Linked DNA regions of Homo sapiens: all the other regions are linked to region 2. The links come from fine-mapping of genetic effects on gene expression. A gene starts in region 2. Each other region holds a variant in brackets. All regions are shown on one strand. Distances are between the middles of the regions. Region 1 has its middle 190 kb from the start of LAT. Region 2 holds the start of SPNS1 (SPNS lysolipid transporter 1, lysophospholipid). Region 3 has its middle 200 kb from the start of LAT.

Region 1 (10,326 bases), 200 kb after region 2:
CCGTCCCCCGAGTTCAAGCAATTCTCCTGCCTCAGCCTCCTGAGTAGCTGGGATTATAGGCACGCACCACCATACCCAGCTAATTCTTGTGTTTTTGGTAGAGATGGGGTTTTGCCATATTGGCCAGGCTGGAGTGCAGTGGGGCAATCTCGGCTTACTGCAACCTCTGTCCCCCGGGTTCAAGTGATTCTTCTGCCTCAGCCTCCCGAGTAGCTGGGATTACAGTCACACGCCACCACGCCTGGCTATTTTTGTATTTTTAGTAGAGACGAGGTTTCATTCACCATGTTGTCCAGGCTGGTCTCGAACTCCTGACCTCAGGTGATCAGCCCGCCTTGGCCTCCCACAGTGCTGGGATTACAGGTGTGAGCCACCACGCCCGGCCCAGTTTCATGTTTTCTGGGATGGATTTGCTCATTTTTGTTGAGGAATGTTGCCGTGCTCACGAGGGCCTTGCTCTGCTGTTGCCTGCAGGTTCTTTCCAGCGTTGTCCGCGTCACAGGCCTCATAACACAGATGGGAAAACAGTCCCTCCTCCTTCACTTTCTGAAGAAGTTTGTATGAGTTTGACGTCATTCTCTTCCTTAAATGTCTAATAGAATTCAGCAACGAATCCCTGGCTTCCAGGATCTCACTAGAATAGAATATTATCGCCTTGATTTCACTGCTTTCATTTTTATGGCGACTTTCTGTTTGGTCAGTCGACTCTGATTTTTCCTTTACAGTAGTAATATCAAGTTTGATTTCTCAATACTTGCATTGCAGTTTATGAGAAAATTTGTTTAAAGAAAGATAAGTGAACAGCATTCTGGGGCGGGAGGAGGAGGGCGGTATTCAGATACGGCGAAACCATTTGTTGAGAGTGGAAAGGCTGGTGTGATGAGCGCCGTCAGTGCTGCAGGCGGCAGGGAGGGCCTGGGGCTGCCCTGTCTCGCCTCTACCTTGGGAGCTGCTGTGTGAGTTGAGCACTGGGCTGAGGGTGGGGTGGCCTCCTTTCCATCTGAATTCTGTATTTGAGATGAAGAAGGTTGGATTTGGTGACAACAAGAACTGTGTTTAGAAGGAAAACTCTGTTTCTTGAAGCAACACCTACTCCAAATTTCCAGAGGGTTTTGCTGTCTCCTCACCTCAGTTAAATGAGGGAGACTGTGAAGGACCAGCCCAACACTGAAGATCTAAGAGTTTATTCCCAAAACACCTCCCCAGAACCAAGCTCCAGGACACACAGGCATGAGGCTTGCCTGTGCCGGCGGCCACAGCAGTGAGTGTAGGCCCAGGGTTCTGCACAGGAGGGGCTGTGCCCCTGTTTAGGTCTCGGCCCACCGGCCTCTAGTCTGTGTGAATTCTATGGGAATTACTCCCTGGGCCCTGGGAGAAGGGCAGAGGATGGCAGCTGTTGGGTGACCCAGATGGCGAGACAGCACCAGCACAGATGCCTGAGCCGCTGAGGATGGGTGGCCCCTCTCGAGGCCAAGGGTTGAGCCCCTGAAGGCCACGTCGCCCAGAATGCAGGCCTTTCTCGGGGGGCCGTCAGGAGAAGTAGGGGGTGATCCTGGGTAACTTGGGGCACAGGCTGGTGCAGCCCTCTCCAAGGATGGCATCTCTTGAGGTTTTACATTGAATTCCATGATATAGCATATTTTTAAAAATATGAAAATGATGTTCATAATAACCAACTGGTTGAATTATTATTTTTTGCTGTTCTCACCCTCCAACCCTCAAATACAATCGATCCTCCATGAAGTGGCGCCACTGTGGTTCAGAACACTTTACACTTTGCTTAGAGGGTGCTCCACCTGGAAGGGCCTGAGCTCCTAAACAATCGGTAATGCAGTGATAAAGCGTTAACTTCCAACTATCAAAAAGTACCTGACTCATTCATTCCAACTGGAGCTCATCCCCGTGAGCTCTGGGTCAGAGAGATGAGCTCCCCAGCCCTGCCACAGCGTCATGCCAGGAACCAAACTAACACGAGCCTCAGGCTCCTCATCTTAAAGTGGGGTTAGCCTTAGGGTCATCTCGGCCTCTGGTGAGCCATCATGGCAGCCTCTCGGCAGGGTCTGGTGGGCAGGAGGTCCTCGGTGAGTCTTGTCACTGCCTCTGTTCTTCCTTGGAATCTGTGGAGCCGAGAAGACAGAACTCATTGTCCTCTGCTTCTGTACTTTGCACATACCGGTTTTTTTTGCTACAAGTTCTATATTGCATTGCATTGATTTATGCAAGTATCTGTTTCTTTATCTGGGGTCCTACCCTCTTTCAACACAGTGCTTGGAATTCAATAGGTGATAAATATATTTTTTGTTAAATTGAAGCTGCCTGGGAGTGGTGGTTCATGCCTATAATCCCAGCACTTTGGAAGGCTGAGGTAGGAGGATTACTTCAGCCCAAGATTTTGAGACCAGCCTAGGCAACATGGGAGACCCCATCCCTACTAAGAATACAAAAAAATACAAAAAGCCAGATGTGGTGGCACACGCCTGCAGTCTCAGCTACTCAGGAGGGCTGAGGTGGGAGGATCACTTGAGTCCAGATCAAGGCTGTAATGAGCCAAGATCGTGCCATTGCACTTCAGCAGCCTGGGCCACAGAGCGAGACTCTGTCTAAAAGAGAAAAAAAGAAAAAGAAGGCTATTGCCACACCAGCCACCAAAGCCCCTCTGAGGGAATCCTGGCATGCTTTGGTCTTTGGTTTGGAAAAGTTACCAGTTTCAGACTTAGCTTTTCTTGCTTGTGATCAAGTCCTGGTCCTGTGGTGGCAGAAGTTTCTGTAGTTTTCTCTTCAGTGAAAAACCATTTCTAGATCTGCATTAAGAGGACTAAACTGAATGCGTGGGTCGGCAGAGTTGGGCTCGAGGACCATTACCGTCGGGCGCTGTTTGTCTCTAACCCGAATACCAAGCCTCCCAGATGGCAGCTTGCAGCATCGGGGTGCGTGCGCAGGAAACGGGAGGCTGAGCTGTCCAGCCCTCCCTCAAAAGCCGGGGTCGAGGCCATTTGGGGGTCTTCAGAGAGGTCTCGCTGTATGCTCTGGACAAACTGCATGCCGCACACAGCAGGTATAGTCGGTTCTGCCAAAACGTGATATCGGCGTCCCTAGAAACCACCACGCAGGCAGAATGGCGCAGTTAAAAACCACGGTGTGTGGGGAAAGGAAGCCAAGGGTGCAGCACTCAAGGACTTCACCGGCACCAGGTTACAAAGGGAGTGGAGGCCGAGGTGGGCGGATCACCTGAGGTCAGGAGTTCGAGACCAGCCTGGCCAACATGGTGAAACCCCGTCTCTGCTAAAAATACAAAAAATTAGCTGAGCGTGGTGGTGGGCGCCTGTCATCCCAGCTACTTAAGAGGCTGAGGCAGGACAATCACTGGAACCCCCCCGGAGGTGGAGGTTGCTGCGAGCTGAGATCGCGCCACTGCACTCCAGCCTGGGCGACAGAGCGAGGCTCTGTCACAATGAATGAATGAATGAATGAATGAATGAATGAATGGAATCATCACAGTGATCCCAGTACTTAGGTTTAGAGCATCATCTTTCTGAATGTATTGTCATGTAAATGGGCAGCCCTTGGCATTTAGCTTTATAACCACTTTTTCCACCCGGTGGTATTTTGTGGCCATCCTTCTGCGTTGGGACACACTGCTTTGTTCCTTTTCATGGCTGCACGGTGCACTGTTGTACTCACTCTTTGGGCAAACGTTTACGAACCACGTGCTGTGTGCTGGAACCATGTGCTGGGAGCTGGGGACACAGTGAGGAGGACAGAGAGGTCTGCGTGGATGCACCACCATCCATTTCACAAACCCCTTATGGATGGGTCTAGATCATTCTGTGTAGTTACTTTCTGCAATGAGCCATGTTGCAATGCATGTCTTCACTTATCCATCTTTGCATATGTATCTATTAGTTATTTAGAATAAGTTCCTGGAAGTGGAATTACAGAATCAAGAATAAGCACATTTAAAAGCCAGGCGGATGTCCAAGAAGCTCCTAAAAAGCTGCATCCATTTCCATCTGCCGACCCCGTGTGGGTGTGCCCGCCTCCTCACCCTGACAGCAGGGTGTTGCCACACTTGTAAATCCCTGCCGCCTGGCAGTTGGCCTGTGCCTCGAGCAAGCTGGTGTCATGGATTGTGAGTTAGGATGGACAGCTGTTTGCATTTTTTCTTTGGCTGATTGCCAGTGTATATTATTTTAAAATTTTAAATGGATTTGTTTTTTCCTCATTGATTTATAAGAGCTCTTTCTATATGGAGGATATTTACTCCTTGCCATATACCCATTGCCATTTTTCTCTCTGTTAACTGATTCATTTCATCAGAGTTTTCATCTTGTTTCAAAAGAAAGTCCCCAGGCCGCTCCTCCCTGCAGGCAGCTCCTGGACAGGGGTCAGTCCCCCCGCCATGTGCCTGCCTTGCTGATGAAGCCAGGGTGAGGCCCCGGGCAGCAGGGGCTCCTGACCACCTGGGAAGAATCGGCACTCCCTGCTGGCATCTGGAACAGAAGCCTATTGGCCTGGGGACCCGAGCATTCCGTGGGGCAGGGCTATGAAGGAATCGTCTCTGTAAATCTTCAGTGTCCTCATTTCTCCCCTCCTTTATCTCACAAGGCCTCTTGGCCGAGCCCAGTCTCCCCCGAGGAATCCTCTCTGGCACACATCATTTGTCATCTGCTTTGTTCTGCTACTCAATGTTTGGAATTCCAGGCTCACTGAGAAGTCATCTGTTGGGGAGAATTTGGGGCTGGTTGACTCTGTTGTCAGTGACACCGCCAGATGGGGCTGACTCCAGATGGACGGGGTTGGCCAGGGTCGATCTGGGCCAACAGTGCCAGCCTGTGGCTGCTTCCCGGGCAGGGGCCATCTCATGGGTGCCTGAGGGGTGAAAACTTGGGGTGTTCGTGTCACCTTGGCTGGGGCACAGGAAGGCCCCACACGTTAGCTGTTGGTGAGGAGCACCCACACCCAGGGGAGCACTCACACCCAGAGGAGCACCCACACCCGGGGCCCCTCTTTCCTGGGCATTCGGTTCCTCAGCGACACCGGCTTGGTGCTGGGACCCGTGATCCACAGGCACAGATCTGTCTTCAGGGATCTCACTGTGAAGCTGGCCATGTTTTATTCTTTTTTTTTTTTTTTGAGATGGAGTCTCGCTCTGTCGCCCAGACTGGAGTGCAGTGGTTTGATCTCGGCTCACTGCAAGCTCTGCCTCCTGGGTTCATGCATTCTCCTGCCTCAGCCTCCCAAGTAGCTGGGACTACAGGTGCCTGCCACCACGCCCAGCTAATTTTTTGTATTTTAGTAGAGATGGGGTTTCACCGTGTTAGCCAGGATGGTCTTGATCTCCTGACCTCGTGATCCACCCACCTTGGCCTCCCATAGTGCTGGGATTACAGGCGTGAGCCACCGTGCCGAGCCAGCCATGTTTTATTCTATGTGTTCAGCTGGACAAAGGTCCCCCAGTTGTCCATGTCCTAGTCCCTGGACCTATGAAAGTGCAGCTGGACAGCAGTGCCAGAGCCGTTGTGAAATGTAAGCCACTGCTGTTAAGTCAGGTTCCTCTGCGCTGGGGAGGCTGCGAGGATAGAGCCACCTCCAGCGTTGTCTTCCAGCCTGGCCCCTGCCCTCCTCCTCCTCATCCCATCCGGCCCGCCCTACAGGCACAGATGTCCTTCTCACAACTCTGATTTTCATTTTGTTAGATTGCTGGGATAAAGCAGAGACATGTTCAAGGCATGCAGCTGTCCTGAGCTTTGAGGATGGCGTGTTGCAGCTGTCTCCGGCTTGGCCAGGAGGCTGGGTCCAGATGGCGGCAGCAGGGTCTATTTCTGGCTATTCGTAACCCCAGGCCAGGGTTTTAGATGGGTTTTAGAACATTTAGATGAATGAGTTGTGTGCTCCTGGTCAGCGGCACTTGCTGTATCGTGTGCCCTTCACAAATAAACCTAGCTAGCAGATGTAGCGTGGGCCCTGCCCGTGGGGGCCCATTGACATTTTGCTAATTACTCAAAGAGGAGGCCTGGAGCCTGAACGATGGACGTCTGATGGCTCATCTCATCCAGAGATTGCCTCGTGCCTGTTACGAGTCTGTCCCCAGCTGCCATCCTGCCAGCTCTGCCTTCTTTTTGGAGAAGATTAGATGATTCTCATGTACCGAGCATGCCCAGTACAGGGCAGGGCCTGGGTGAGTGCTCAGGTTGGTGCAGTTTGTACCTGAATGATGACTGTGGAGGGCTTTGTCGTGAGCCTGGCCACTGGGAGGGGAGGATGCAAAGATAAGTTCTGTCCTCCACAGTCAAAGATCTCAGCATCCTTGGGCAGACATGCATGTATGTAACTATGGATGCATACAGCCATGTGCATGTACAGCTGTGTGTGCATATAGCCATGTGTGCGTACAACCATGTGTGCATATGGCTATGTGAGCATACCACCACACAAGCACCATGTGTGTGCAACCATGCGTGTGCAAGTCATGTGTGCATACAGCCATGTGCACATACAACCTTGCATGCAATAACCACGTGTGCATACAACCATGTGTGCATACAGCTGTGCGTACATACCACCAAGCCTGTGTACAGCTATGCATGCATACAGACGTGTGTAACTGTAAACAGTCATATGTGCATACCACCATGTGTGCGGTTGTGTACATACAACCAAGTGTGTGACAGCTATATGTGCATGCAGCCATGTGTGTGCAGCCATGCATGCATGCAATCATGCATGTATACAATTATGTGCACATATGACCTTGTGTGCATACTCCAC[A/G]CATGCATGCAACCACGTGTCAGCTATATGTGCATACCGCCATGCATGTATACAGCTATACATGCATACAACTGTGCATGAATACAGCTATGCGTGCATACCACCACAGTGTGTGCACAGCTATGTACGCATACCACCATGTGTGCATATAACTGTGTGTGTATAACTATGCTATGAGCCATGGTAACTCATTGCAAGAGGGAAGGGAAAGACAGCCAAGGGGTTATTGTAGTCTTTAGAAGATGAGCTTCTTTACAACTGAGGAGGAGAAAGATGTTTGATACAAGGCATGGTCAAGGCTCAGGGAGCAATGTGAGGTGCAGAGCCCTGGGTCTGCAGATTTGGCTGGGAGACCATGGCTAGCCCAGGGAGACAGAGGGTGGGAAGAGGAAGATGGGATTGGAAAGCTGTAGGGGTGCTGTCTTGCCCAAGACGATAGAGCCGGGTTAAAGCAACAACAGAGCCTGGAGAGGAGCTGGTGTGGCCTTCACCCCATCACGGAGCATTCCACCACTCCCGGTCCAAGGGAGTGCCCGTCTCACTCAGTGTCTGTGACGCTGGACAGCAGAACCATGTAATCAGACACACAAACTATCAAGGTGTGTTGAAACTATCACATTCTAGAATGTTCCATGGACTCTTTTGGCATCCAAGAGCAGGGACTTTACTATTCCAAACTCAGCCATAATTTTGTAGTACTTGGTGAATCATTACTCACTGGCAAGAGTTCACTGTTGTTTGTCTTCTAATCACAATCCTGTTTAAACCATGTCCTAGTGCTGGGATTGGCCCCTCCCCTGCCCTCACCCCACTTTCCCAAATGCCACACCAAAGTCTTGGCAGGGGATGTGCCTGTCTGGGAGCGCCCAGTGGGTTGTCAAGGGATGATTACACAGAGTCATAGCCCTAGCTTCCTTACCTCTTGGAATAACATAACACATAAACCTCCTAATTTTCATCTTCCTTCTACATAAGCCTGATTGAATAGTAGAAAAGTCATCTTTTTAAAAGGAATCTGCCCCTAGATACAATATTAGTAAACTTTATGTGGCAGTGTCTGAATAAAAGGGACATTTGTAGTCATGCAAGGTTGATTCTGCAAAGGAACATAACAACCCACCACCAGATTAACCTCTGAATCCATTCAAAATGCCATGTGACCAAATTCATCTCTTCCTGATTTCAGTAAACTAGACATAAAAAGCAGCCTTCTTAACTTCATAAACTTGCATAGGATATTATTCCTAATGGAAACACATTTAAAGCATTTCCACTAAAGTCAGTAGCAAAACAAGGGTGTCGGCCTTGCTGCTACTTTTCTATGTTGTATCTGAGGTCATCACCAAAGGAATAAGACAAGAAAAAGAAATAAGCAGTGTGAGCACAGCTATTCAGCTATTCACCATTCGGCTGCCTGGAAAATGCTAGAGGGAGGCCTCTGGTGAAACTCTAGGCTGTGCTGACAGAGGGGACCCTCTCCCACTGTAAACACATAGACATTCTGGGTGAAATGTAACCTGCAACATTTTAAGTTCATAGACAAGCTTGAAAGAAAGACAGGGAAAGCTTTCAGGACTAGAAATGAAGAGTGAAATGAGAGGGTGTTTCGGAGACCCTGAGAATTGTGACGAGTGTCAGAGCGGAGACTGCTCTGCATCCCACATGCTGGAAGCTGGGATGAGCCCAGCCAGGAGGCTCAGAGCCCCAAGGAACTGCACATGCTGTGAAAAGTGGATCTGAAACCTTTTTGCCCCCTGGCCTGGGGACGTGATGAGGAAAATTGCTATGAAAAGTGGATCCGAAACCTTTTTGTCCCCTGGCCTGGGGACGTGATGAGGAAAATTGCTGTGAAAAGTGGATCCGAAACCTCTTTGTCCCCTGGCCTGGGGACGTGATGAGGAAAATTGCTGTGAAAAGTGGATCCGAAACCTCTTTGCCCCCTGGCCTGGGGACGTGATGAGGAAAATTGCTGTGAAAAGTGGATCCGAAACCTCTTTGCCCCCTGGCCTGGGGACGTGATGAAGAAAATTGCTGTGAAAAGTGGATCTGAAACCTTTTTGTCCCCTGGCCTGGGGACATGATGAGGAAAATTGCTGTCTGTCCAGGCTTTGAGTAGAGGAAAGAAGTTTCCCGTAAGAAATAGAATCTCCAGACCTTCTCGACACCTGAGTCTGGTGACTGCATGGTTGGCACAGCACAGAATCCCTAAGAAAGAAATTCACAGAACCCCAGGCCAGAGGATCTGGTAAATGAGGACATTTCCTCAGCCCAGCATTCATGAGACAGTCTCCAAACAACAGCATCAACAACAAAAGATACACAGAACAACTCCTACCGAGTTTGAGCTCCAATAAACAGTCACAGGAAGAAATGAACTGTCAGGATCAAGTGCAGTGAACACACAATCAGCACTGTGCAGACAGGGAATAATTGAACAGCAGGAAATACATGTGTTTATCTAAAATTATTTAATACAAAAGAGGGAGTCATAATGAAAGTCCGGAGCAAAAGAAATGGATTTGGAATTGAAGTGGCAGAACCGATTTAAATGAAAAATATAGTCATAAAAAAAAAAACTTTGGCTATATTAAATGGAAGGTGTAAGATTGCTGGTAAGAAAAGTGGCCAGGGAAATACAATACGGAGGAATAAATATTTGGAAAGGAGGACGGAGCCATTTAGAAATCGGAGGGTAGCACGGAGGAAAGGAGGACGGAGCCATGTAGAAATCCGGGGGTAGCACGGAGGAAAGCAGGACGGAGCCATGTAGAAATCGGGGGGTAGCATGGAAAGTCTGTGACAACACTGATTTACAAATGAGCAGGCAGAACGTGAGAGACACGATGTTCAAAGATCCTGCAGAAAAGCCGGGGGCCTTGCCCTTCTAGTTACCAAAATATACTCTAAAACTGTGTTAATCCAGGAGGAATTTCAGTATAGAAACAGATAAGTGGATTTTAAATTGAGGCCGGGTGCAGTGGCTCAGGCCTGTAATCCCAGCACTTTGGGAAGCCGAGGTGGGTGGATCATTTGAGGTCAGGAGTTCGAGACCAGCCTGGCCAACATGGCGAAACCCCGCCTCTACTAAAAAATACAAAAATTAGCCGGGTGTGGTGGCGGGCGCCTATAATCCCTGCTACCTGGGAGGCTGAGGCAGGAAAGTCGCTTGAACCCAGGAGGCAGAGGTTGCAGTGAGCTGAGATCACGCCATTGCACTGCAGCCTGGGTGACAGAAGGAGACTCTGTCTCAAAAAGCAAACAAACAAAAAAATCAAGTCTAGCATATGGCCATTTACAAGAGAATTTAATGTAGGAAATTGGTCATGTTTGAAAGAGAGGAAAGAATCATTCAAAGGCATCGTTGGGCCGATCAATCCACCATCTGGAAAAACAAAGTTAGAACCCCACCTTACGGACACAATAAATTCTGTGCAGATAAATCCGCTAAATTGCAAAAAAAGTTTAAAAGAAGAAAAATGGAATAGTTGTATAATTCCGGTGGAGGAAAAGACTTTCTACCCCAAATTCTAATCCCAAAAAGGACAAGATGGACGTCTT
Region 2 (10,326 bases):
CTCAAACTCTCCTGATTAGAGACCCTTGAAACTTTAATGCTCCTTTACTCAGTGCCACATACCAACCTTGGCTCTTTTCATAACCTTATTCATCCTCAGAGCAATCCTGTGAGGTAGGTGTTCTTATTCCCATTTTACAGAAGAAAAACAGAAGCTTAGGGCTGGGCACAGTGGCTCACGCCTGTAATCCCAGCACTTTGGGAGGCCTAAACGGATGGATCATTTGAGGTCAGAAGTTCAAGACCACCCTGGCCAACATGGTGAGACCCTATCTCTACAAAAAGAAAGAAAAAAAAACCAGGTATGGTGATGCACGCCTGTAGTCCCAGCTACTTGGGAGGCTGAGGCAGGATAATTGCTTGGACCTGGGAGGCAGAGGTTGCAGTGAGCTGAGATCGCACCACTGCACTCCAGCCTGGGCGAGAGAGTGAGACGCTGTCTCAAAAAAAAAAGACAGAAGCTTAGAAAGATGAATGAACGTGCTCTAGACCACAGGGCCTCCCATTGCACAGCCCGGTGTAGATGCAGGTGGGTCTGATGTATGGCTCAGAATTCTCAAGGAGACCAGAGACTCTCGTCAGTGTGCACACAGGTTGTCTGGGGACCTTGTTAGTGTGCAGATGCTGGATCAGCAGCTCAGGTGGGGCGTGAGATGCTGCATTTCCAGCAAGGTCCCAAGTGATGGCAATGTAGCTGATCATACTTGAAGTTGCAACATACCATTTTGCCTTTTTTTCTCTATGCCTTTACTGTCTCCCACCTCCCTACCCCTGTCACCCCCTCCAACTCAGGGTCAGTTCTTCCATAAGGCTCCTCGTAGGACTGGTCACATTGTCTTTTGTGTGTCCCACCTCTGCTTGGAGTCTGGCTTGGTACACCCATCCACGCATCCAGGTTTTGCTTCCCTATGGGACTGTAAGTTCCTTGAAAATAAACTCTTCTTAAAAATCTCTTGGCTGGGCCGCAGTGGCTCATGCCTGTAATCCCAGCACTTCAGGGGGCTGAGGTGGGAGGATCACTTGAGGCCAGGAGTTCCAGACCAGCCTGGGCAATCTAGTGAGACCCCATCTCTACAAACATAAAAAAAATTAGCCAAGTGTGTGGTGCATGCCTGTAGTCCCAGCTACTCAGGAAGGAGGCTGAGGTGGGAGGATTGCTTGAGCCCAGGAGTTCGAGACTGTAGTGAGCTGTGATTGTGCCACTGCACACCAGCCTGGGCAACAGAGCAAGACCCCATCTCAAAAAAGTCTCTTGCTTGGTGTCTGACACCTTGACACAGTAGTATCCTAACAAATGTTTGTTGAATGATTAAACTCCTGTCTCAAAGAATCCCAGCATCATCCATCTCTGCGTGAGCCAGAAAAGCTTCACTCTTGATCCCTTTTCATCCCCCACACCCACTGCATCACCCGTTCAACTTAATAGCCCCAGCTCCCTCCCAAATCAGCTCCCTCTGCCCGTCTCCATGCTGTCCTAGGCCAAGCCACCACTGCCTGCAGCCTAGGCTAGTGCCACAGCCGCTTCACGGGTGGCTGTTTCCCCTCTGGCCTCTCAAATCCATCTTCCATGCTGCAGCCAGAATGATATTTTCTTTGGTTTTTTCTTTGTTTTTTTTTTTTGAGACGGAGTCTCAGTCTGTTGTCCAGGCTGGAGTGCAGTGGCGCGATCTTGGCTCACTGCAACCTCTGCAGTGAGGTTCAAGCGATTCTCCTGCCTCAGCCTCCCAAGTAGTTAGGATTACAGGTGTTCACCACCACGCCTGGCTAATCTTTGTATTTTTAATAGAGACAGGGTTTCCCCATGTTGGCCAGGCTGGTCTCAAACTCCTGAACTCAAGTGATCCTCCTGCCAAAGTGCTGGGATTACAGGCGTGAACCACCACTCCCGGCCTATTGTAGTTTAATTAATATGCCTAAACATTGACTCATTTTAAGCATACAGTTCAGTGAATTTTTTCAAAAAATTATTTATGTAGAGACAGGGTCTTGCTCTGTCACCCAGGCTGGAGTGCAGTGGCGCAATCATAGTTCACTGCAGCCTCAAACTCCTGGCCTCAAACATCTTCCCATTTCAGCCTCCCTAAGTGCTGGAATTACAGGCATGAGCCACCATGCCTGGCCTTCAGTGAGTTTTGGTAGATGTACACGGTTGTGCAAAAGTTTCCTTCTCTTGCCCATGACCCCAGGCAACCACTAATCTGCTTTCTGTCACCTTACTTTTGCCTTCTCTGGATGTTCATATAAATGGAATAACAGTATGCAGTGTTTTGTGTCTGGCTTCTTTTACTTAACACAATGTTTCTGCGTTTGTATCAGTAGTTCTGTTACAGGACAGGGGTCCCGATCCAGACCCCAAGTGAAGGTTCTTGGATCTCGTGCAAGAAAGAATTCAGGGTGAGTCCACAGTGTGAAGTAAAAGCAAGTTTATTAAGAAAGTAAACTGGGCCGGGCACAGTGGCTCACACCTGTAATCCTAGCACTTTGGGAGGCTGAGGTGGGCGGATCACCTGAGGTCAGGAGTTCAAGACCAGCCTGGCCAACATGGCGAAACCCTATCTTTACTAAAAATACAAAAATTAGCTGGGCGAGATGGTTGGGGCCTATAATGTCAGCTACTTGGGAGGCTGAGGCAGGAGACTCACTTGAACCTGGGAGGCAGAGGTTACAGTGAGCTGAGATCATGCCATTGCACTCCAGCCTGGGCTACAGAGTGAGACTCCGTCTCAAAAAAAAAAAAAAAAAAAAGTAAACTGGTGAAAGTACAGCTACTCCATAGACAGAGTAGGACATTCCTGAAAGTAAGAAGGGGAAGGCATCCACCTTATGTACAAGACTCATATATATGGGGAGATGTGCTCTGCTACAAGGGTTTGTGATAAAGGATTTTTTTTTTTTTTTTTTTTGAGATGGAGTCTCGCTCTGTCGCCCAGGCTGGAGTGCTGTGGCACGATCTTGGCTCACTGCAACCTCCGCCTCCTGGGTCCCAATTTAAGCAATTCTCCTGCCTCAGCCTCCTGAGTAGCTGGGATTACAGGAACACGCCACTATGCCCAGCTAATTTTTGTATTTTTAGTAGAGATGGGGTTTCACCATGTTGGCCAGGCTGGCCTTGAACTCCTGACCTCGTGATCCGCCTGCCTTGACCTCCCAAAGTGCTGGGATTACAGGCATAAGCCACTGCGCCCGGCTAATTTTCTTAATTACTATATTTAGCAAGAATCAATATTGTTATCTTTAAAGCAAAATTAGGAATGCTTTGTTCTCCATATATTGGGATATCTGGACACTCCCAAGTCTGGGTCTGTTTAGTAAACATTATATTATTATTATTTGAGATGGAGTTTTGCTCTTGTTGCCCGGGTGGGAGTGCAGTGGTGCTCTCTCAACTCACTGCAGCCTCTGCCTCCCAGGTTCAAGTGATTCTTCTGCCTCAGCCTCCTGAGTAGTTGGGATTACAGGTGTGTGCTACCATGCCCGGCTAATTTTTTTTTTTTTTTTTTGAGACGGTGTCTCACACGGTTGCCCAGGCTGGAGTGCAGTGGCACAATCTCGGCTCACTGCAGCCTCTGCCCCCTGGGTTCAAGCAGTTCTCTGCCTCAACCTCCCGAGTAGCTGGGATTGCAGACGCCCACCACCACGTCTGGCTAATTTTTTGTGTGTGTTTTTAGTAGAGATGGGTTTTCACCATCTTGGCCAGGCTGGTCTTGAACTCCTGACCTTGTGATCCACCCGCCTCGCCCTCCCAAAGTGTTGGGATTACAGGCGTGAGCCACTGCGCCCGGCCTAGTAAACGTTATTGTTTCCTTAACCATAAACATGTCGAGTCTAGGAATGCCTTACTTTCTGTAATTCAGTCCAGCAAGTCCCAGCCTTATTTTCCTAACCGTCACTCAAGATGGAGTCACTCTGGTCCGAACGTCTCTGACAGTTCATTCCTTTTTCTTGTTAAGCTATTCCCGTTGTATGAATAGATTATGCCCCTGTTGATGGACATGTGGATTCTTTTCATTTTTGGGCTATTATGAATAATGCATTTATGAACATTCATATACAGGTTTTTGTTTGGACACGTTTTCATTTCTCATTGGTGGTTACCTAGGAGTGGAATTGCTGGGTCATATGGGAAGTGTATATTTAATTTTTATTTATTTAGTTTTTTTGTAGAGATGAGTCTTGCTTTGTTGCCCAGGCTGATCTTGAACTCCTGGGCTGAAGTGATCCTCCCACCTCAGCTTCCCAAAGGGCTAGGATTACAGGCATGAGCCACTGTGCCTGGCCAAAAACACAATTTTTAAAATGGACAAAAGAGCTGGGTGCAGTGGCTCACACCTGTAGTCCTAGCATTTTGGGAGGATGAGGTGGGAGGATTGCTTGAGTTCAGGAGTTCCAGACTAGCCTGGACAACATAGCGATAACTCATCTCTACAAATATAAAAATTAAAATGACACTGGGCATGGTGGCTCACCCCTGTAATCCCAGCACGGTGGGAGGCTGAGGCGGGCAGATCACTTGAGGTCAGGAGTTCAAGACCAGCCTGGCCAACCTGCTGAAAGCCCATCTCTACCAAAAATACAAAAAATTAGCCGGGTGTGGTGGCACGTGCCTGTTATCCCAGCTACTTGGGAGGCTGAGGCACAAGAATCGCTTGGACCCCGGAAGTGGAGGTTGCAGTGAGCCGAGATCCCGCCACTACACTCCAGCTCCAGCCTGGGTGACAGAGCAAGCGTCTGTCTCCAAAAAAAGAAAGAAAGAAAAAAAAAAAGAGTTCTTTACATGGATACAAGTCCTTTGGCAGATAGATGCTTTGTAAATATTTTCATTCAACCTGTGGCTTGCCTTTTCACTTCAGAGGTGCAATTTACAATGCGTATCACTCTCTAGATAAGCTCCACGAGGGAAGGGAGTAAGTCTGCCTTTCCCTGAAACCTGGTAAAATGCCAGGCACATACATGTTCAATAATATCTTGTTGAGGGAATTAAATGCCTGCAACCTGAAGTTCCTGTCCGCCAGGGGAAACCAAGCTTAAGGTTCTGAAACACGAGGCACCTAATATGGGGGGGGGGGGGGGGTTAAAGCCAATTATGGGTATTCGGACTCGAAATAGTTTCTAACAAGGCGTTTTGGGGTTGGGGGATGCTCTCCCCACGAGATTCCAGGATTTCAGTAGAGGGCCTTTAAGGGCTGGTTGAAAGATGGGTCTTGAAGCTGTATTTGCACAGAACTATACTAATTTTACTTAGAGTGCTTTATTAGATGTAGCTTGGAGATTATAGGGTGCCACTAAAGAACCACTCCCAAGTTATCCCTTTGACCCTAGTCCTGCAGCTGGGAGTCTCCTTAGGCTAGGAGCTCCTGCCTGCCCTACAAAAGCCCACCGGAGGGCGCAAGGGCTCCAATCCCGATTGGAGTGAGGAAAAATATGCTCCAGGAGCGGCGGGTGGAGACGCTTCCTTTAATAGGTATTTAAGTGTCCACGGTGAAGGCTCAGGAGTTTACAAGGCTAGCAGGGTTGGGGAATCTCAACAAAGGGCGGGGCGTTGCTCAAGCTCCATCCGTCCGTCCGTCCATCCCTCCGTCCCTCCAATCCTCCATCCATCGCGCTGCTCAAGCTCCATCCATCCATTTATCCATCCATCCATCCATCCTTTATTGAGAGTAAAAAGCCGCCAACCAGACCCTGGGAGGAAGACAGGATGGTTCCCGAGAACTAGGGCTGCTCCTTGGCTTTTAGAGGTATCTACTACTTCCAAAACCTTTTGAGACCCCATTATCCCGTTTGATGAAGATGGAGTCTGCCACGTGGGGGTTCCAGATAAGACAGCTGAGATTCGGAAGGGCAGGCGACTCCACCTAGTCACGGGGACGCTCTTTTTGACGCTCCAGGGACCGCAGGGTCTGGGAAAGTTCCTGGTTACTCCGGCGACCGGCCGGCCGTCACATGACATGTGAGCCCGGGCGGAACGCCCAAGAGGCTTCCGTAGTCGGGTGGCAGGTCACGTGTCGAAGGCTTGCCCGCGGGGACCCCTTCCACCCTGGCTCCCGCGTCACATGACCGGCTTTAAGCAACATGGCGGCTGCCGTGGTGCAGCGCCCGGGCTGAGCGACAGCAAGTGCAGCGGGCTCCTACCCCGGGTGAGGGGTGGCCTCCGCGTGGGATCGTGCCCTCTTCAGCCCGCTCCTGTCCCCGACATCACGTGTATTCCGCACGTCCCCTCCGCGCTGTGTGTCTACTGAGACGGGGAGGCGTGACAGGGCCCGGGTCCCTTCTCAGTGGTGCTCTGTGCTTCAGGGCAAGCTCCCCGTCTCCGGGCGCACTTCCCTCGCCTGTGTTCGGTCCATCCTCCTTTCTCCAGCCTCCTCCCCTCGCAGGTGGGATCGTCGGTGGGACCGGAGCGCGGGCGGGCGCGGCCCCCCGGGACCATGGCCGGGTCCGACACCGCGCCCTTCCTCAGCCAGGCGGATGACCCGGACGACGGGCCAGTGCCTGGCACCCCGGGGTTGCCAGGGTCCACGGGGAACCCGAAGTCCGAGGAGCCCGAGGTCCCGGACCAGGAGGGGCTGCAGCGCATCACCGGCCTGTCTCCCGGCCGTTCGGCTCTCATAGTGGCGGTGCTGTGCTACATCAATCTCCTGAACTACATGGACCGCTTCACCGTGGCTGGTAGGGACTCACTTCTGGGAGGAAGATAGTCTAGGAGAGGGGAGCCAGGGTCCCGAGGGTGGCGCTGCTTTGCCGGACCATCCTGAATTTTCTCCTCAGGCGTCCTTCCCGACATCGAGCAGTTCTTCAACATCGGGGACAGTAGCTCTGGGCTCATCCAGACCGGTGAGTGGGGACCACTCCTGGTCACACAGCCGCTCCTCCTTCTGTTCTGTCTCAAGTGGGGCCACGCGCTGGCCTGTCTAGGGGCTCATTAATGGAGGTTTTGTGGCCAGTTAGGGGAGGTGATGGCCCTGATGTTGCTCGGGGGTCAGCGGGACACCACATTTAAAGAGGGAGTCAGTTTAGTATAACTAAGTATAACTTCACCCAGGTGAAGACAGACCTGGGTTTAAATCTCAGCTCTTCCACTTATTGTGTGATGGTAGGCAAGGCACTCAACCTCTCTAAGCCTCATTTTCCTTGTCTATAAGATGGAACAAGTAATAACACGAATCATCTCTTAGGACTGATGTGAAGATTAACTAAAAGATTGTCTGTGAAGGGCCTAGTGCAGTGTTTGGCACATGGTAGACACCCAGTAAATAATGGCAGGAGGGTTGGGTGTGGTGACTCACGCCTGTAGTCCCAGCACTTTGGGAGGCCAAGATGAGTGGATCACTTGAAGTTAGGAGTTCAAGACCAGCCTGGTCAACATGACGAAACCCCATCTGTACTAAAAATACAAAAATTAGCCAGGCATGGTAGCGAGCGCCTGTAATCCCAGGTACTTGGGAGGCTGAGGCATGAGAGTTACTTGAACCCGGGAGGCAGAGGTTGCAGTGAGCCGAGATCGCACCACTGCACTCCAGCCTGGGTGACAGAGCGAGACTCCATCTCATAAATAAATAAATAAGTAAAGGCAGGAGAGGGTGTCTGGAATGGGGAGAGGTGTGTTTTACTTGTTCACAACTTTGGGACTTGTGGGAGAGGCAAAGCTAGAGCCAAGCCCTTTTTCTTCCTTCCATCCTTCATTCATTTCTCAACCATTTCTGAGTACTCATTGTGTGCCAGGCCTGGAGGAAGTGATGATTACACCTGTAGGACTTTGCGAAGAACTTTTATGCCCCTTGTCTTCTAATCCTTCTATCAGTCAAAAATAGGTGTTACTGTTCCTATTTTATAGAGGAAGTAGGTAGTGATATCTACAGCTTATAAAGAAACTGAGGCTTGGAGAAGAGTTAAGACTTGCCCAGGGTCACACCACCAGTTGGAGGCGGAACAGGAATTTGAAACCAGGTCTTGCAGTGTTCTTTTCTCTACTCCAGGCCAATGAGGAACTGGAGGTATTTGAGGTGAAGTCTGGAGCAATGAGAATGGGATCATAGGGCAAGGTCTTCAAACCTCTGAAGAGTTGTTGAGTTAGAGCAGCAGCTCTTTCTAGGCAGCCGGATTTATTCACTCTCTTCACATGCTTATTGAGCACCTGTTTTGCACTAGGCTGTGTGTTAAGTAAGTGAAAGAAACACAGTCATGGCCAATACAGGCAAGGACCTTGCCTTGGGAGCTGATAGTACGCTATGCATGAGGCAGCAACAGCCAGTAAAACGCTAAACTAAAGTGGGACAGTTTTCCCATAGGGATAAGTGTTATGTAACAGAAAACAGTCCAGGCGCTGTGGCTCACACCTGTAATCCCAGCACTTTGGGAGGCCGAGGCGGGTGGATCACGAGATCAGGAGATTGAGACCATCCTGGCTAACATGGTGAAACCCCATCTCTACTAAAAATACAAAAATTAGCTGGGCGTGGTGGCACGCCCCTGTAGTCCCAGCTGCTTGGGAGGCTGAGGCAGAATTGCTTGAACCTGGGAGGCGGAGGTTGCAGTGAGCTGAGATCGCGCCACAGCACTCCAACCTGACAACAGAGCGAGACTTCGTTTAAAAAAAAAAAAAAAAAAAAAGAGAAAAAAGTAAATGTGAGAGTCAGGTACTGGATGTGTGCTCACCTGGGCAGCATGCTTCACCCTTGGCCCTGGGCAAGTATCTGAGCTGGAACCTGAAGGAACTATGCTCTGTGAAGTTTCAGGGGGAGAGGAGAGAATGTCCTTGATAGAGGAGGCAGTAGGTGCCTAAACCCCTAGTGGTATTGGCCTTGACAATTGGGCCATTGGGATGCAGACAGAGGAAGGGAAAAAGGCTGGCCATGAGTGTGGAGAGGTAGGCAGGGCCTAGATTGGACAGGGGCATTGTGAGCCATGGTATGCATGGAGTTTGGAGCTTGTTTTGGCTAGGTGGAAGGAATTGACAAGTAGTGGGACCATCCATTATACAATGGGAAATCTGGAAAGGTGTTCAAGATGGAGCTGGACCATCCGCCTGACAGGAAGCTCTGATGGGCTTCAGGCTGGGATGTGGGGGTGTTGTGAATTCTGTAAGGAGAAGGCAGGCATCTCCTGTGCTTTAGTGGTTCCAGCTGGGGTGGGAGTGGGAGGTAGGGGTACCTGGGCTGAGCTGTGACTCTCTGCTTCCCCCTAGTGTTCATCTCCAGTTACATGGTGTTGGCACCTGTGTTTGGCTACCTGGGTGACAGGTACAATCGGAAGTATCTCATGTGCGGGGGCATTGCCTTCTGGTCCCTGGTGACACTGGGGTCATCCTTCATCCCCGGAGAGGTGAGGCCCCAAGCTGGCTCCTGTTTCTGCCCACACCCCCTCCCTGTCAGTCTCTGCTGCTGCTCCTTGGAGCTATGGCAGACTGGGCCTCAGGGACTCCTGCAGTTTCCCTGGTCCATGCCATTTTATACCCCTCCTTGCCTGAGTTAACCTGCCCCACCCCATCCTCCCCTTTTCTTCCAGAGCATTCTCTGTCCATTATCCCCTCTTCCCCTGACCACTGACTCCTTCTACTCCATACCTAAACACTCCAAACCCTACCTGGCCTGCCCTCTCTCCCTCCTCTCATTCCTGATCAGACTTCCTGAAGGGCCCCTAGAGCGTGGTGCCAGTGTGGGTAAAAGAGCAGCCGGGGAGATGCCATCACTCTGCCTGCACTTCCTCACGCCTGCTCACCCCTCGAGCGCTGCCACTGACTTCTGCTCCCACCACTCCACGGACCCTGCTCTTGCCAAAGTTAACAGTGGCCTCCTAGTTGCTAAACACAGCTCCAACTTCCTGGTCCTGTTCATGCTAGGAGCCTCTGGCACTGTTGACCCACTCTTCCTTCCTGAAACTCTCTCCTACCTTTGCGATGCCACACTCTTCTGGCTTTCCTCCTGCCTCCCTGGCTGTTGCTTCTTTGTTCCTTTGAAGCCTCCTCTGTCTGTTCTCACTCCACCCCAGAACTCTGTCCTCAGCCCCAGGACCTACGTACTTTCCTTGGGTGACTGTACCCGTCCTTAGCTTCAGGTGCCTTTGGTAGACACATAAACTCCCATCTAAGGTCACTTATTCATTAAAAAAAAAAAATTAAAAAACTTTCCCCTACCAGGCAAGCAGGGGTTGTCTTATTTAGACCTTTTATTGTCTAGTCCTTGCAATAGCTCTGTGAAAAGTTGTTGTTATCCTCCTTTTGCAGATGAGGAAACTGAGGCTCAGAGAGGTTAAGTTATTTTCCCCAAATCGCAGCTAGTAAGTGGTGGAGCCAGGATGCAAGCTCAGGTCTGTGTGATTCTAAAACCCAGGCATC
Region 3 (10,326 bases), 210 kb after region 2:
CTCTTCGCAAGGACACCGAGAGCCCCTGGCTCTGGGCCTCCCATCTGCCCTTCCTCCCGCCCATCGTCAGCGTTTACGAGGGTCTGCCACGTGCCAGGCGCAGGGGAAACAGCGCAGGGTCGGAGGCAGAACCCGCCTACTGGGGAGACAGGAGTGGGGAGTGGCCTCACACCCCACAGGAGGGGATGGAGGAGGTATGCCTGGGGCCATGCCAGAGCAAGGCAGAGGCTTGGTCCAGCCTGTGGCAGTGAGCAGCCGGTGGGACAGAGGCCACAGCAAGGCCAAAGGTGTGGGGAGGGCGGGGGGTGTCTCTCTGGTCCTGGCAGAGCTGCCAGTCCCTACTACGTCTGTTTGTTGATTGGGTCATGTTTAACTTCGGGAACCATGCACAGTGTTGGCCACGAGATGCCGTAACCAGAATAAAACAGGACTCTGGCGTCAACGTAGCTGTCTCATGTCCTGTCAGGAGGTAGGGCAGAGATAAGGGGCTGGTGTGATTAACGCCAGCTGCCTCTGCCCTGGTGGAGAGGACGGAGGACATCACGTCCCTCCAGCCACCCCAGCCTGTGACACGTGACATTTAAAGATTTTTCTTGCTCTTTGAGGCACATTTTTCTATTTTCAAGGACAGATGAGGTCACAGACGCAGTGTGTGCTGCATTTGAAATGTTTTAGGCTAATTTTTGGCCTTTGATTCCAAAGCCTCTTTAAGACATATGTTCTCTCTGTCATCACCCGTGTGGCCCAGCGAAATCCTGAACTCTAAGGAGAAGGCAAATCTCTCTCCTTGCTTTTCAGCCTCAGACAGTGAAGTGAGAAGTTCAACATGCTGGGCTTTGTAGCTGTTTTCTCCTTGTTTTCTAGACGTGTCCATATTCTAGAGTCTCTTATCTTGGGAAGTTACATGCTCTGTTTTTGCCTTTTTTTTTTTTTCTTTTTTTGAGGCAGGGTCTCGCTCTGTAGCCCAGGCTGGAGTGCAATGGTGTGATCTCGGCTCACTGCAACCTCCACCTCCCAGGCCCATGCAATTCTCAAGCCTCAGCCTCCTGAGTATCTGGGATTACAGGCTCCCACCATGACGCCCAGCTAATTCTTATATTTTTAGTAGAGACAGGGTTTCACCATGTTGGCCAGGCTGGTCTCGAACTCCTGACCTCAAATGATCCGCCCACCTCAGCTTCCCAAACAGGCATGAGCCACTGCACCCGGCCCATTGTTGCCTATTTAACGATTACAAAAAAAAAAAAATCTTTAAACTTAAGTGACCTTAAGTCCCAGGGAAGGGTGATGCGTCATGTTCAAGGAAACAGCTTTGCAGTCAACCGACTAGCATTTTAAAAGCAATTATTTTGGAGCATTTCAAACACACACACATAATGAATGCATGCCACCTGGGGCTGGGCCACAGCACCACGGCCCCTCGTGCTATCTCTGCTCCCCCCACCTCCCCTCCCACTGGGCTATTGGTGGCAAATCCCAGATGCCTTTCTCAAACTCACGCATTGGAATCCCACAGCACTAGCTTTGCCATCCAGCCCCTGCGAGCCTCGTGCTTGGCCGCTGTTCACCAGGCCAAGCTGCCCTCTTGGGTTTGCCGCTGTTGGTGCAGAGGCGCCTGCAATGGGCCCAGGGCGGCGGTTCTGCTGCCAGATCTGGTCTTCCAAATGGCTTCTAATTGCTTCTGGCAAGAGCTCCCCTCTCTGGCTCCCCTAGGGGCCCAGTGAAGACCAGAGCTGGATGTTGTGTCCTGGCTGGGCTTTCACATCCTCCTTATTCCCGATCCCAGGGGGCCTCTTGCCCCCTCGCTGCAGGCTTAGGGTGGTGCCCCAGCCCCCAGTGCTGGGCAGCTGCTCTGCAGAAGGATGCTTGGGAGATGGACGGGCTCCCCCTGCCGCCAGAGCCTCCTGTGGCCCGAGGCCATGAGGGCAGTGGGTGGCAGATGTGGGGTGATGAGTGGTGAGTGTCCTGATGGGGCCTTCAGACCAGGGCCCAGTGGTCCAGCCTCTGGGAAGCGGCCGAGAAGCTGGAATTTTCCCAGCCGGCCTCGCAGTCCCGTGTTGGGAGACTGGGCCACTTTGTGTTTTCTGGGCTTAAGAACAGGAACAGCAGCTTCATCCAACACTGCCTCCCTCCACACGGTGCCCAGTGCAGGGCCTGACTGCTCGCCCTGGCTGTGCACCCCTCCTTGCTGCCTGTAATCCTGGAACCACCAGCTCCTTGGGCACAGTCCAGGCTGCTCAGGCATCCATGCACCAGCGGCACCACGACCCACCCGGGCCCGCGTGACTAGACTCAGGACTCAGACAGTGCCTGGCACGTGGCAGGTGCTCTGGCCATGGCTGGGTGGCAGGGACCCTCGCTGCGGGCCACCATAGCACGTCCTCAAGGGTGAGGTCAGGCCCTTCTGGCTGTCTTTGTGCCTGCTCCATTTATTAAATCAAAGCCACCTGTGTTCTCTGGGGTCAGGAGGAGCCATGCCACCTGCAGTGGCAGCCGTGGCTGGAACCTTCTTTCCTGTGGACCCGGGTCTCACGCCCGCCCCCAGGTGCAGCACGGAGCTAAGGTGAGGCCCGGGGAGAGCGGCACCCTCCCCCCAGTCTCAGCCCCCATGGGGTTTTCTGGGCTCCTGGGAAAGAATCTGGTGGCCAAGGCCCGAAGCAGAAGCCCCAGGGATGGGGACAGCTCTTCTCTCCCGCCGTCTCCAGTCTCTGCCCTGGGGACGGCTGCTCCCGTGTGCTGTGCATTTGTGGGGG[G/A]CATTCCTTACACCTCTCCCTGGCCCTCCACACAGCACAAGGGTGGTTTCCAGCCCATGAGATCCATTTGCACCTGAGAGAAGGGGCTGCTGTCTGAAGGGCCTGCGGGAGGGACTCCAGGGCACTCACGGGGCTGCCAGGATGGAAGGGACCCCTGGGGCTGAACGTGACCAACGGGTGGACTAAGGCTGAAGGGGCCAGAAGAGCACGCTGGAAGAGAGGGCAGTGGGGCTTCCAGCACGGTACAGCGTGGGTGGCCTCCTGGGGGTGTCTCAAGCTCAGAGAAACTGTCCCCACGTCAGGAGGGGTCTGCTGAATAACAGCCCCAGAGGCATCCATGTCCTGATCCCTGAATCCTGCAAACATGTGCCCTCACGTGGCAAAAGGGACTTTGCAGATGTGACTGAGGTTCCCTTTCCAGGGAAAGGACCCTGGATTCCCTGTCATCTCAAGTCCTTGGAAGAGGAAGGCAGAAGGACGAGGCCACGGAGAGACTGGAGCTGCCACGCAGCTGGCTCTGATGGCAGAGGAGGGGCCACGAGCCAAGGGATGTAGGGGCCTGGGAAGCTGGAAAGATGGGGAAGATTCTTCCCTGGAGCCTCCGGGAGCAGCCAGCCTGCCCGTGCCTCACCGTAGCCCAGGGAGACTGGAGTCCCACGTCGACCTCTGACCTTCAGAGCCAAAGTCGGTCCATGTTGTTTTAGCCACAGAGACTGTGGCCATCATTCTGGCAGCAGTGGGAGACACAGGAAGCTCTCGGGTGGGGAGCACCGACTGGGGTCCAGGGCTGCGAATTCAGGCCGATGGAATCCCAGCCCCCAGGGGTGTGGGTGGGAGCCAGGAGAGGTTCTGGTCAGTGCTGGGAGGAGAGGCCAGGCTGCTTTCACTCTCAGGGAGGGGCCTGTGAGTTGGAGGAGGTGGGGACCTCCAGGCCAGTGCGCAGAGCACCTGCTGGGTGTGATGTGCTCACGGGATGCTGTGCCCCCTGCCAGCTAGGGAGTCCCCGGGCAGCTGCTTGCTCAACCCTGGGCCATTCCAACATACCCCTTAGACTGTGAGCATGTTGGATGCACACTGGCCTCCCGGTCATCACAGGGGCTTCCTGCCCTCCACAGCCCATGCGCAGCTGACCAGACGGCTGAGCTCAGAGAATATCCCATGTGGAGGAAATCTGAGTGTCGAAGAGAAACCACAGCCTATGGAAGGGACCCCTGAGTGTCGAAGAGAAATCACAGGCGGCAGTGATTGTGGCTTCCTTCGTCGTTGTGTGTACGCCAGCGGTCACCTGTCTTTGCACCCCACTCTGAAGCCTGCAATGGGACAGCGATTGCAGCTTCCTTCGTCGTTGTGTGTACGCCCGTGGTCACCTGTCTTTGCACCCCGCTCTGCAGCCTCCAGGGGGCAGCAATTGCGGCTTCCTTCGTTGTTGTGTGTACGCCGGCGGTCACCTGTCTTTGCACCCTGCTCTGTAGCCTGCAATGGGGCTTTCCCCCAATTCCTCCCACGCATCAATGTGTGTTCACTCACCAACTTGCCCCTCTGAGGGGCAGAGGCGTGTGGTGTTTTGCTCCTTCAGAGACTCCCTTGGGGCCTCGTTCCCAGCTCCACCACCCCCATGGGGCCTGCAGCATGTTCTGCACATGGATGCCCCAGCACAGGAGGTCCAGCCACACAAGAGGATGCCCTGCTCCATGCTGGACACACACTAATGGCCCAAGGAGAGCAGAGTTGGCCCCGGCGCTGTGCCTCCCACCAGCGTCCCACTCTGTGAGGTCTTTCTTTAATCATGAATCCTAAGGGAGGAGGTCTCCTGTGGGGCACAATTGGCCAGAGGGGCAATGTGGAAGCCTGGCTGCGGCACCAATGTCTCTGTGAATTGCAGCTCCTTTGAGCTCATGGGACCCTTTCTCCAGGTTCCCTGAGCTCCCAGGTCACTGGTGTCCTTGAGGCAAACACCCTTCCAGAAGCTGTCAGCGGATCCGGGCCTTGGATGGGCTCCTCCCTCTGGGCTTGGCAACCCCGTCTCGGGCATCTGCCACCACCCTGCCTTGGTGGCGGTGAGGCTGTCATCATTCTGGGGCTGGGCTGGCGGGAGGTGTCGTGCTGGGGCCAACTCTGTTCTCACTGGGCCATTGGCCTGAGTCCGGCATGGAGCTGAGCATCCCCTTGTGTGGCCATGACCTCTTGTGCCAGGGGGGTTCATGTGTGGGACATGCTGCAGGGTCCTCAGGACTCAGACAGTGCCTGGCATGTGGCAGGTGCTCTGGCCGTGGCTGGTGGCAGGGACCCTCGCTGCGGGCCACCGTAGCACGTCCTCAAGGGTGAGGTCAGGCCCTTCTGGCTGTCTTTGTGCCTGCTCCATTTATTAAATCAAAGCCACCTGTGTTCCCTGGGGTCAGGAGGGGCTGGGCCTGGTTCATTTGTCATTGTTCAGAGTCAGAAGCTGAGTTCACAGTCTTTCCTCCAAGGTCACACAAGGTCTCCTGGTACCACATCAGCTGATATTGTGGAACATTCTCCTTGAAGGACAGCAGCCAGTCCCGCTTCTTTGTGCTATTCCTGGAAAGAGATGTGCACAGGCCACATGGGAGACCTCCGTGGGCTCTCCGGCCTTCACTCAGCCAGAGATAATTCCCCTGGTGAGTGCTGGGCGGGAGAGATTTCCATGGATTCATTTTCACGGAAAAGACCAAAGCCGTCCAGCCGCCCCTTATCTGTCGGGCCGGTGTCTGTGTCCTGACAGAGGCCATTTGTCGGCCCCCGCCTCTCCCGCCCTGTCTCCGTGCAACCGCAGCCTGAGTGTAGAGATGGGCGCATCCCTGAACAACCCTTTCTGCTTCTCCTGACACCCTTTGCAGGGCTGCGGCTTGGGGAGTGGAGTTTAGCAAGCAGTGGGCGAGTCTTGCACTCAGTCCAAAAGTAGCAAGGGAACTGATTTGTACCGTGGTCTCACCACTGAAGAACCCCCCGCACCCCCAGCAGCTCCTGGAGACATGGATGATGCCAGGACAGCAGCTCCCGGAGACACGGATGATGCCGGGGCATTGGGCCTCACCTCCTGGCTGCAGCTTTACCCCTGACACGTGCTGGGCAGGCTCTCTTTCCCTCTTTCAGTCTCAGGTTTCTCGTCAGAAAACAGGCTGAGGAACTGGTCTATAAACTCCTTTGCCCCCAGTGAACTCCTACTTATCCTTCAAAGCCCTGCTCACATGCCCCTCCTCTCCAGGTGGACAGGCATTGCCATCCTCCGGCTTTGCTGTGCTCCCCATAGAACTTTCCAGGTGTTGCCTACCTCTGTCAGGCAGGGGCACAGCCCCCCAGCACATCATTGGGTTCAAAAAACATTTGTTGGTTAGGAGCAGTGGTTCATGCCTATAATCCCAGCACTTTGGGAGGCCGAGGCGGGTGGATCACCTGAGGTCAGGAGTTCGTGACCAGCCTGGCCAACATGGTGAAACCCCGTCTCTACTTAAAAACTACAAAAATTAGTTGGGTGTAGTGGTAAATGTCTGTAATCCCAGCTACTTGGGAAGCTGAGGCAGAAGAATCGCTTGAACCGAGAGGCGGAGGTTGCAGTGAACCGAGATCACACCACTGCACTCCAGCCTGGGTGACAGGGCGAGACTCCATCTCAAAACACAAAAAAACCAAACAAATAAACTAAAAAATGTGCTGCAAAAATCAATTTAGAGCCGTTTTCCTCTCTGGATTCAGTTACAGCTGTTTTTTGGTTTTTGTATAAATATTTCGAAGGGCAAGCCATAGCATCTGGGTAAAATCTAGACTTGCCCTCTGAGCTGCCTCCACGTTCAGGTGGGTGTTAGGGTCATCCGGAGGGGTTGCTGACAGCAAATAGCTGCTCCCCCTTTGTGGGTGGACTCTCAGTGCCTGGAACAGTGCCCAGGAAGCTGCATTGTGAATCAGCCCTTCAGGCGACTGGCTGCAGGTGGTCTTTGGACCCCACGGTGAAAATCCTGCCGGCCTGGGAAAAGTGCCGTGAACAGGAAGCACCAGGACTGGGTGGGGCCGATTCGGGAGCTTTGAGCTTTCCAGGTTTGAGTTTCCGGACTTTGGGAGGTGACACTCAGGACGGGGGCTGGGAGGTCGCTAATTTTGAGGAAGCAGCCTCTAAGGAAGAACATGAAACTGGCCCGGCCGTAGAAGCGCCGTGGGGTTCCGGTAGGCAGGCTGTGGAATTCTGCGCCACGTCATTCATCTCTCGCCACGGTGGGGAAACTGAGGGTAGAGACAGGGGTTTGAATTCCTCAGGCCCCGGGAAGGGGTTTGGAGCCATGGAGTTTGAAAGTATTGTCCAAAGAAGTCCAGGAAGAAAGTGCTTACGTGTAATTTACGACTCACTAATGAAAATGGCACAGAAGTGACACGCGACTCCAGAGCCAGCACCCGTCCAGGTGAAGCCCCACAGGGCGCAGCTTTCTGGGACCTCAGCGAGCTGAGCTCCTCCGCCGGCTCAGCCCAAAGGCAGCCCCTCTGCAAACAAAGTCTTATTCTTTGAAACAGGAACCCTCAGGGGCCGCCTGGGGACTGGTGCCGACTGTCAAACCCAGCAGATGGGCTTCATCCAGGCCTCAACTGTCAGCCGGGACGACCCCAGATCACACGGGCGTGGGCCGTGGTCAGCCGGGAGCGTCCACGTGGTCAGCCAGCCTGATGTGTTCGGTGACTCAGCCAAAGCTTAAAACACGGAAGCCGGGTAGCGCTGGGCGGCTGCGTGTCAGAGAATGAGTGTTTCCCGATGGAACGGCGGGATAGAAATGGCCGCAGACTCTCCCTGCTTCCAACCAATTTCGCTTTGCGGTGCTCACCTGTAAGCGACTGTCCAAAAGTCCACAGATGCGCAGGGCTCTGGGTGAGACCTCTGCCAGGGTGGCGTCTGCTGCAGTCCTTTGCTGTTAATATAGTTGTGTGCCTCACACCACTGCTTCTAGTGTCTTCCGTGTGGATTGGTAGGCACCATTAGTATCGTAATCATTCTTTTAAAACCAAACAATACTTGTGTGCACCCTCAGTTGGCTGCTGCTGTAAATGTTCTCCGTAACCCAACCTGCTGGTCGAGAAGGATCCTCGTTCGGCCACTTCTGAATTGCAAGCTACAGCTCCTAAGAACCTGAGCCCAGGCTTTGGCAGGAAGCCTCCAGCAATTTTTAAGGCACCTTAGTAAAGACGTCCCAGCATTCATCACAGCAAAAGTGCAGAATTGCTCTGAGCAACAAAGTCATGGGAACCCAGAAACTCAGAAAACCCTTTTCTGATAAATAAATACTTGTGTAAAAGATGTTTCTGCGGAGGAGCTGATGTTCCCACACCAGCAGTAGATACTCCCTTCTTAAACAGAAGAGATGGAAACGCCTGCGTCTCAGCTCTTGGGGGCAGGGTGTGGGGAAAGCCCCACAGAGAGAGCTGGCTTTGGAGAAGATGGCCTGGAGGTGAGGCCATGGGCGGAGGAGGGCAGGCGTCTCAGGCTGTGGATGCAAAAACAATTCTGAGAACTGTAGCGAAAGGAAGATTTCATTTTAAATGTGTTGAAAAAATCACCATTTGGCTAAGATTCTGCACCAGGCCCCACCTTGCTCTGGCCCTAACGCGTAGCCCTCTGAGATGGGCTTTGGCGTTGGAAAAGTCATGGGCAGCCATGAGCAGCCTACAGACACGCTCTGGTTTCCATAGCTCTCCAACACTCCTCTGCAGGGTTTCTTCTGGGGCTGGGGGAGCGCAGCTGCTTTTCCGTCTATGGTGCTGGCCGAGGCTGGGGCCGGGGCCTTGGCAGCTGTGGATTTTGGCTGCCCCCGCGGTCCCGGATCCGTGCTGCTGATGTCTGCTTGGCCCGCTGGTTGCCTCTCTGTGGAATCTGTCCCTGGCTGGGTCTTCTGTTGAGCCCCCCTGTGCCAGCCCTGACAGTGTCCCGGCGTCCACAGGCGGGCTCTGTGGTGCTTTGTAGCTACCTCTGTACTAATTGGAAAAAACCATTTGCCCCTACCTGGGCCTCTGGATGGATTTTTTTTAAATGTAAGAATTACTTAGCAGTTGGTAAATCACTTCCCTCTCTTCATTTCTAGAGAAACTGTCCCTTTCTGGGAAGGCGAGGGTCGGAAGGACTGCAGAGTTGCCAGGGAGGCCGCAGCCAGGGTGATTTGCTTTGTGTTTCTGACACAAGCCGCCGTCTAATGATTTCCCAGACTTAAACCATTTGCGTTTTCATTAATGGTTTTGGAGCCGGGGCAAGTTTCTGTCAAGGGGATCAGCTCCAAATGCCGTCTCCTCCACCTCACTGGCCGTGAAGGGCTCTGGCGGGGCACGCCCCCAGCACCCTGGCTCCGGCTGGCGTCTGCTGCTGTGGTGACGTTCTGCGCTGTATGGGGGGATGGCGTGAGGGTTCCCTCCCACGACAGGATATTTCTTTCTGAACTCCTGCTGCCCTGGGCAGGTTGGTGGGGCCGGGGGTGTGGACAGTGCCCAGCACAGGCTGGACAGGGTATCCCATTTCCAGCCCAATCTCGTTCTCTCTGCACCCCTGGAATGCAGGCGAAGGGGCCGAGTGGCTGCACCACAGCGGAGCCTCCAACCAGGGTGTTCCGGGGTGTCCCCTCACTTTTGTTGGGGGCCTGCAGTGGTGCCGGGCTCCACACTGAGCACCCTAACCCCAGCTATTCCCTGTATCCCTTCACATGTAAAGCAATGGGCTGGTCTAGAAGAGTCTCCATTGTCTCTTCCGATCCTAACACCTTGGTGTCGGTGATGCTACCTGGTGTTTTGGAAGCAAAACAGTGGCTGGGAAAATAAGGTAGAATTTACCCATTGCCCTGAGGATTTTTCCCGAGTGGGTAGAAGGATGCACCTGCCCGTCACAGGGTGAGGTTGACCTTTGCTTATGGGGACACAAATGGCACGTGCAGGCGAGAAGGTCATAGCAGCCCTCAACAGGGTCGCTGACTGTGGACTGCGGGAGGCCTTGTGTTAGCCCAGGCCGCCTGCAAGGCACACAGCCCCGGGTGCCTGAGGCAGGCGCTGGCTGCTGAGAGTTCTGGAGGCTGCAAGTCCAAGGTCAAGGGCCCTACAGAGTTGGATTCCCCGAGGCCTTTCTCCATGGCCTGCGGATGGCATCTCCTCCCCCATGTCCTCATAGGGCCTTCCCTCTGTGCATACATCGGGGTAGAATGAGAGTGAGAGAGAGAAGGGGAGACAGAAATCCCTGGTGTCTCCTCCTCTCCTTAGGGGGCACTGGCCCCAGTGGATCAGGGCCCCACTCTCAAAGCCTTATTTATCCTAAGCCCCCTCCTTAAAGGCCCCATCTTCAAATACAGCCACACTGGGGCCTAATTAAGGCCTCAAGGTATGAATTTGGGGACACAGCTCAATCCACAGGAGGAGTGAATTAGTGCTTCCAGCTTCTCCGGTCCTCTGGTCAGTCTCCATCCGGTGTGTAATGGCACCTTGCCCAGCCTTCATGCTTTTCTAAGCATCTTTTTTGTTTGTTGGTTTGTTTTTGTTTTGTTTTTTGAGATGGATTCTAGCTCTGTCGCCCAGGCTGGAGTGCAGTGGGGTGATCTCGGCT

Evidence for each region. PIP is the estimated chance that this variant, and not a neighbour inherited with it, causes the effect.
Region 1: its variant is the best candidate, but not a certain one, in a credible set for the expression of SPNS1 in whole blood (TOPMed, PIP 0.52).
Region 3: its variant is the best candidate, but not a certain one, in a credible set for the expression of SPNS1 in blood mononuclear cells (TOPMed, PIP 0.74).

What each region holds. Positions count from the first base shown.
Region 1 is chr16:29,164,993-29,175,318 of GRCh38, forward strand. No RefSeq gene overlaps it. Among named protein-coding and RNA genes, the nearest start is that of LAT, 190 kb to the left of the region's middle. RefSeq lists an enhancer at 1,386-1,886. The variant A/G (reference allele first, on the strand shown) is at 6,769.
Region 2 is chr16:28,968,731-28,979,056 of GRCh38, forward strand. It overlaps SPNS1 (SPNS lysolipid transporter 1, lysophospholipid), which reads left to right and starts at 6,048. Exons shown (of 12, transcript NM_032038.3): 1 at 6,048-6,662; 2 at 6,762-6,827; 3 at 9,178-9,314. The coding sequence starts at 6,422. RefSeq lists enhancers at 5,785-5,904, 5,985-6,094, 6,193-6,362, a cis regulatory region at 6,278 and a silencer at 6,315-6,404.
Region 3 is chr16:29,177,863-29,188,188 of GRCh38, forward strand. No RefSeq gene overlaps it. Among named protein-coding and RNA genes, the nearest start is that of LAT, 200 kb to the left of the region's middle. RefSeq lists enhancers at 6,873-8,072, 8,841-9,435. The variant G/A (reference allele first, on the strand shown) is at 2,754.